Linked DNA regions of Homo sapiens: region 1 is linked to region 2. Evidence: fine-mapped expression QTL. Tissue or cell type: atrial appendage. Region 2 holds a variant in brackets; the other region holds the start of a gene. All regions are shown on one strand. Distances are from middle to middle.

Region 1 (2,933 bases), 35 kb after region 2:
ACATAACATGTTAAACTGAGCATTGCGCTACTTAAAAATTGTGAATCTTGCTCCAAACTCATCATACTTGAAAAATACTAAATACAAGTGCTGTACGTTAGGTGATACGTTAACCTTTTAGTGGACAAATCATCGAAATTCAAAAAGAAAAGGAAGAAAAAGAAGAAAGGAGGGAACTGTTCCCTCTAAATGTTCAGTAAACACCCATGTGTGCGGAGATTGCAGGGGCCTTCCTTTTTAAGGACTTAATGTTTTTGCCTGGGGTGAAGTGTTGTTGGCACGTAATCAAAATACGTGACGAGTTACATGCGCTCTGCCAAACACCCCATTTTTTAAAGGATGTGACTCCAGAGTGACCCAAGAGCAACTGAAACGCAAGTTTTTTGGCACAGAAAGCCCACCTGGCGCCTAACACCCAAGCAGCTAAAGAAAGCGCTGGTGTTCTTGGGTTATCCTGGTCGAACAGGCTCAACGCGGGATTCTCGGTCAGATACAAACTGCTGACTTAGGAAACTAACCTGCAGCTGCTGAACTGCAGAGTGGGTGCACGTGGGGAGGAGTCCTGCGGGCCTCAGGATGGGGACTTCAAGCCAAGTTTGTTAAAGTGCCCGAGTGAGCGCCCCGCGGGAATCCAAAGGGGAGCGACTGGGCTGTCTCCCCTGGGTAGTTTTGTTGGATGGGCAGGTCCCCTTGCCCGTCGCCTCTTACCTCCTGGGAAGCCGCAAGGCGCCCCGAGGCGGCGAAGCTAAACACAAGGCAAGCCGGGCTGGTGCTTTCCAGAAACTCCCCAAGAACCTGCCGGTTGTCCTCGCTTTCCAAATACTGGCTCCATTTCTCCTCCGTGAACCCCAGCATCATCGCCAGGCGGCCGCCGAGGAAGCGCACCCGCGCGTCTTGGGCGAAACTCCGCGCTCTCCTGGCCGCCGCCTCCTCCTCGTTCTCCTCCTCCTCCTCGAGCTCCACAGCGCCCACTGCCTCCAGGCCGGCCCCCGAGGTTAGGCGAAGGGTCGGGGCTTCTCTGAAGTCTCGCGCCTCCCGGGCTGCCACCTGGGCTGCCATTGGGCAACCGTCCGAGGGAACGCGAGGCCGGCTGGCTCCTCACCCGAGACTCTGGGCCCCCCGAAGTGAGCGAGGACACCTCCGCAGGCGCCCACCCTCCTCCGCGGTCGCCGCGAGCGCAGACCCTAGTCTCCCACCTGCTGCTACTTAGCAGCCGCGCCACTGCGCACAGCTGTAGCCTCGCAGGCCGAAGCGAAGGCCTGGGACAAGCAGCGCGTCCCGTTTCCCGGGGGACGGTGTCCCCGCCCCAGCCCGCTGGGGGCGGAGTGAGCGCACCGCGCCACCGCCCAGTATACGCCAAGGCCAAGGCCGAGGGGAGAGGCCCTCGGGCTCTAGGTCCCGAACACGGCCGAGAAGCCGCGTGTCCGGGGTGGGTCTGAGCCCCCAGTGCGCTCGCTCCACTGCCCTCCGGCTCCTTCGCCTACTGGACACTTGGTGGAGATCCCAGCATTGGTTAAGTGCTCTGGATGAAGCAATGCTCTCTTGTGCCAAGGTCCGTGCTAATCTCTTACCTTGACTAGTTGACATAATCCGTAGAAAGCCAAGTCTCTGACTGGTCAGTCTTTGTTTTATGGGCAAGGAACTAAGTTACAAAAATAAGTAACAGAGAAGTTTCGGGGCCCAAGTTGAAGGCTGTTATTCACCTTTCCCAAGGTGTCCAAATATTACCAGAAGAGAGCCAGTCCTGCAATTCAACTTTCCTAGTTGTGGGAATCCAAGATCTAAGTATTCGAAGTCCTCCTGATTGCCATCCTCAACCTGAAACTTACTGGAACTTCAGTACACCCAGTAAGAGAACGCACAGTGCCCTTTCGTGATCTCCAAAATGTTCCGAAAATCTATAGATTTATCATTTAATTCAAGAGTAAAAAGGTCAAAGAGAAAAAGCTTCAGATTAAAAACAGTTTCATGATACTGAAATAGGATTTCACTGCGGTCCATTAGTGGCTTTCGTTGAGACTCTTATGGAAATTCTAATTATTAAAGCAACCAGAATTTTGAGGAGGAGTCCTCAACTAAACTTTTAAGTCTCCTTTGTTAATTGTTTATTTCAAACTAAAGTCTTCAATCCCCACCCCTTCCATGGGGGCTACTGAAGGACTGTTGCCCACAATAATCCATTTAATACCTGAATGTTGACAGACATTTCCAGAAGATGAGGCTTCAACAATTTTTTTCTTTGCAGGATATTAACTGCCCCTGAAAACCATCGACAAGTTTCCAGTTATGTGATCAGAATCTTGAAATAACACAGGGCCTTGGAAAACTTTGATAATGACTTCTAACCTGTCAAGGCTGCTTTATATTGTCCATAATAATCTTTGGGGCTCCCAGTTGCTGGTATACAAGGCTGGCAATCACCAGTTCCTTCTCTCCCCTCTTATATTCCAGCTTCACATCCCTGTAACCTAGAAAACCGGGAATTCTGTAAATAATAGTTGAATTAAATTGAAAGTGAATAACCACTTTCAAATCTAGCAGGAAAATTTTTTAAATGATGCTAACTTTAAAGTGCAATTTCCAAAAAGTTAACTATGTAACTCGAAATATAAGATGAAGATATGTCAAAGATTGATTTAACTCATAAATGAGGAAAGCAACAAAATGATGTAAGTTCCAAGGACAGTTCGAGAAAGAAATTTAGCAGCATTGGAGGAAGACAGGATGAGTCAGCTTGCTAGGTTCAAAACAACACTCACTAATGTCATACAGGGCAAAATAATCCTTTGTTTTTTAAAAAATAATTTGTTTTTCCAAAATAAATTACATCTGTATTGAACAAAAATCTGTAAATAAAAACGTAACTTCAGAGTTTGAGACTTCGATCAGTAGTAGTTAATGAGTCCAAAAAAGATACTTTTCCCTAAATAATT
Region 2 (2,500 bases):
AGTGGAGCTGTGAGAAGAGGGTCACTGTCCTCCAGACCCCAGAATGGGAGATCCACTGACAGCTGGTAGATCCATACACCTGGAAAAGCTGCAGGCACTCAACATCAGCCAGTGAAAGCAGTTGTGGGGGCTGTACCCTGCAGAGCCACAGGGGTGGAGCTGCCTAAGGCCTTGGAAGCCCACCTCTTATATCAGCGTGTCCTAGATGTGAGACATAGAGTCAAAGGAGATTATTTTGGAGCTTTAAGATGTAATGACTGCCTTGGTGGGTTTCACACTTGCACAGGGCCTGTAGCCCCTTTGTTTTGGCCAATTTCTCCCATTTGGAAGGGGAATATTTACCCAATACGTGTACCTTCATTGTATCTTGGATAACTAACTTGTTTTTGATTTTACAGGGGATCATGGAGGGTGAATTTACTCTTTGTTGTTCTCATGACAGTGAGTTTTCATGAGATCTGATGGTTTAAAAGTATGTGGCACTTCTCCCTTTGCTCTCTCTCTGAACACTATGTGAAGAAGGTCCTTGCTTCCCCTTCATCTTCCATCATGATTGTAAGTTTCCTGAGGCCTCCCAGTTATGCTTTCTGTTAAGTCTGTGGAACTGTGAGTCAATTAAACCTCTTTTCTTCATAAATTATCCAGTCTCAGGTAGTTCTTTGTAGCAATGTGAAAATGGACTAATACACTACTTTAAAATCTTTTTCAAGTAATTCCAAAATCTCTATTATCTTGGTATTGGCATCTACTGATTGTCTTTTTTTCACTCAGTTGAGATCTTCCTGGTTCTTGGTATACTAACTGATATTCTACTGAAATTTCATATTGTTATAAGACTCTGACTCTTATTTAAACCTTTTGTTTTTGCTGACTTTCTCTGATGCTGCTCCAGCCTCATTACAATAGAGACAGAAGTCCAGGTTCTCCACTCGGCATTTACTCATCCACCAAGGGTGGGCGGGGCTCCTTGTTACCGCTGGGTTGGGACTTCCAGTTCCCCATGTGGTCTCTACTGCTGCCACAAGTGCAGGTGGCCTTGTTACCACTTGGCCTCAGGGTGATAGTCTGGACTCTCCATCAGGTTTGCTCCAACATCAGGCTGGGTGAAGAAGGAAATCCAGGATT[C/A]CCACATGGTCTCCGGACACCACAGAGAATGAAGTTCATTCCTGGCCAGCAGGGATGAAAATCATGGCTCCCTATGTGGTCATCTCTGACATCACCCCAGCAAGGGTGGGAGTTGGAGCATTTTCAGACAGAAAGGGTGTAAGTCTAGGCTCCCCACTCAGCTCTTCCTGGCAAGGGGAGGGGTGGGACACAGTTTCTTCCATGGTGTTTGGCTAGAGTGGACAGTTGATGGCTTACAAATCTTCTTTTGTGTTAAGCTCTCTCCTTCTTGAGCCTTTGGCTAGGGAGAGATCAGGCTTTTACTGGGCTTCTTTCTGGTCTGTGCCCACTGGCATTTCCTGGTTGCCAGTGTTTTCAGCTCCAAGTCTGGATTACTTCAGGCAACAGGAAAATCCAGGGAACTCATCATCACGTTGTTGTTTCTTGAGTCCCAATATCCTTAGCCACTCTGCCTTTTTCTTTTCACCTTTCAGAGTCTTCTTAGGTCTGTTTTATATATAATGGCCAGTGTTTTTTTTGTTTTGTTTTTCTCAGATACTGTTATTTTATTTCAGAAATAAGTAGTAACACACATAGACACATTTCTCTTTCTGCCTGCCCAGAAAACCACTACCCCAAAGTAAGTTTCAATCTTTCCCATGTGTGTTTTCACACTTTTGTTATAAACATCATAATATATATACATAAGTGTGCATTGAACACTTTGTTTTTACATTTCCTTGAAATACACTTAAGAATTCTGTCTTTCTTAATTGCTTACAGCACAAAGACCAGGTCTTCACGAGTAAGCTGAAATACAGCATTGACACTGATATTAGGCTAATTTATGCCCACAAAATGCTTTGGCCTAAAATATTCTGAGAAGCAAGGAGAACATCTGTCTTACTTCAAAAGAGCTGTTTATAAGCACAATCTCCCACTTACTTGCTTGATAGGGTCTTGGCTTAAGCCCTAGAAAGGATCAAACATATTATCCATACCCTCTATCAGAGTTTACATCTTTCAAGAGAGTCTTGAGTCAGTATTAAGATCTTCTGGGATCTCAGATCTTGGCTTCCTTTTATCTCCTCTCCCCTACAACCCCAAGAACAGTCCCTTAAACCAACTTGGTGCTTCCTTTCTGGGCTTCCTGCAATAGACATTTTCAAGGGTTGTTTGTGGCCGCCGTGCTTGCTGAGGCCTTTCAGGCAGGCAAGGAAGACACAACCTTGGAATATGTATCAATCCTGTACAAGATGAATCGCTGTCCTTCTTGGGTAATTAACTTCCTGCCAAGCAGCTGTTTGGTCTCCTCAAGGGATAATACCATGGTGGAGCCTCAGAGTCAATCTCCATCGCTGGCAGGTAGGATACTCAGCAGCAACAAGATCTAGAG

Alleles and levels. Alleles are on the strand shown, and positions count from the first base shown. SD is a standard deviation of normalised expression in the study named.
For the expression in atrial appendage of the gene that starts at base 1,266 in region 1, allele C in region 2 goes with a higher level than allele A (large effect, 0.80 SD a copy in GTEx).

The links. PIP is the estimated chance that this variant, and not a neighbour inherited with it, causes the effect.
Region 1: it holds the start of DNAH11, and the variant in region 2 is fine-mapped to the expression of DNAH11 in atrial appendage (GTEx, PIP 0.91).

The regions. Positions count from the first base shown.
Region 1 is chr7:21,541,372-21,544,304 of GRCh38, reverse strand. DNAH11 (dynein axonemal heavy chain 11) reads right to left here and starts at 1,266. Exons shown (of 82, transcript NM_001277115.2): 1 at 709-1,266. The coding sequence starts at 1,059. RefSeq lists a silencer at 1,345-1,394 and an enhancer at 1,443-1,944.
Region 2 is chr7:21,576,097-21,578,596 of GRCh38, reverse strand. The region is part of intron 8 of DNAH11 (dynein axonemal heavy chain 11); the gene reads right to left. LOC105375183 (a long non-coding RNA gene) reads left to right here and starts at 2,455. Exons shown (of 4, transcript XR_007060247.1): 1 at 2,455-2,500. The variant C/A (reference allele first, on the strand shown) is at 1,126.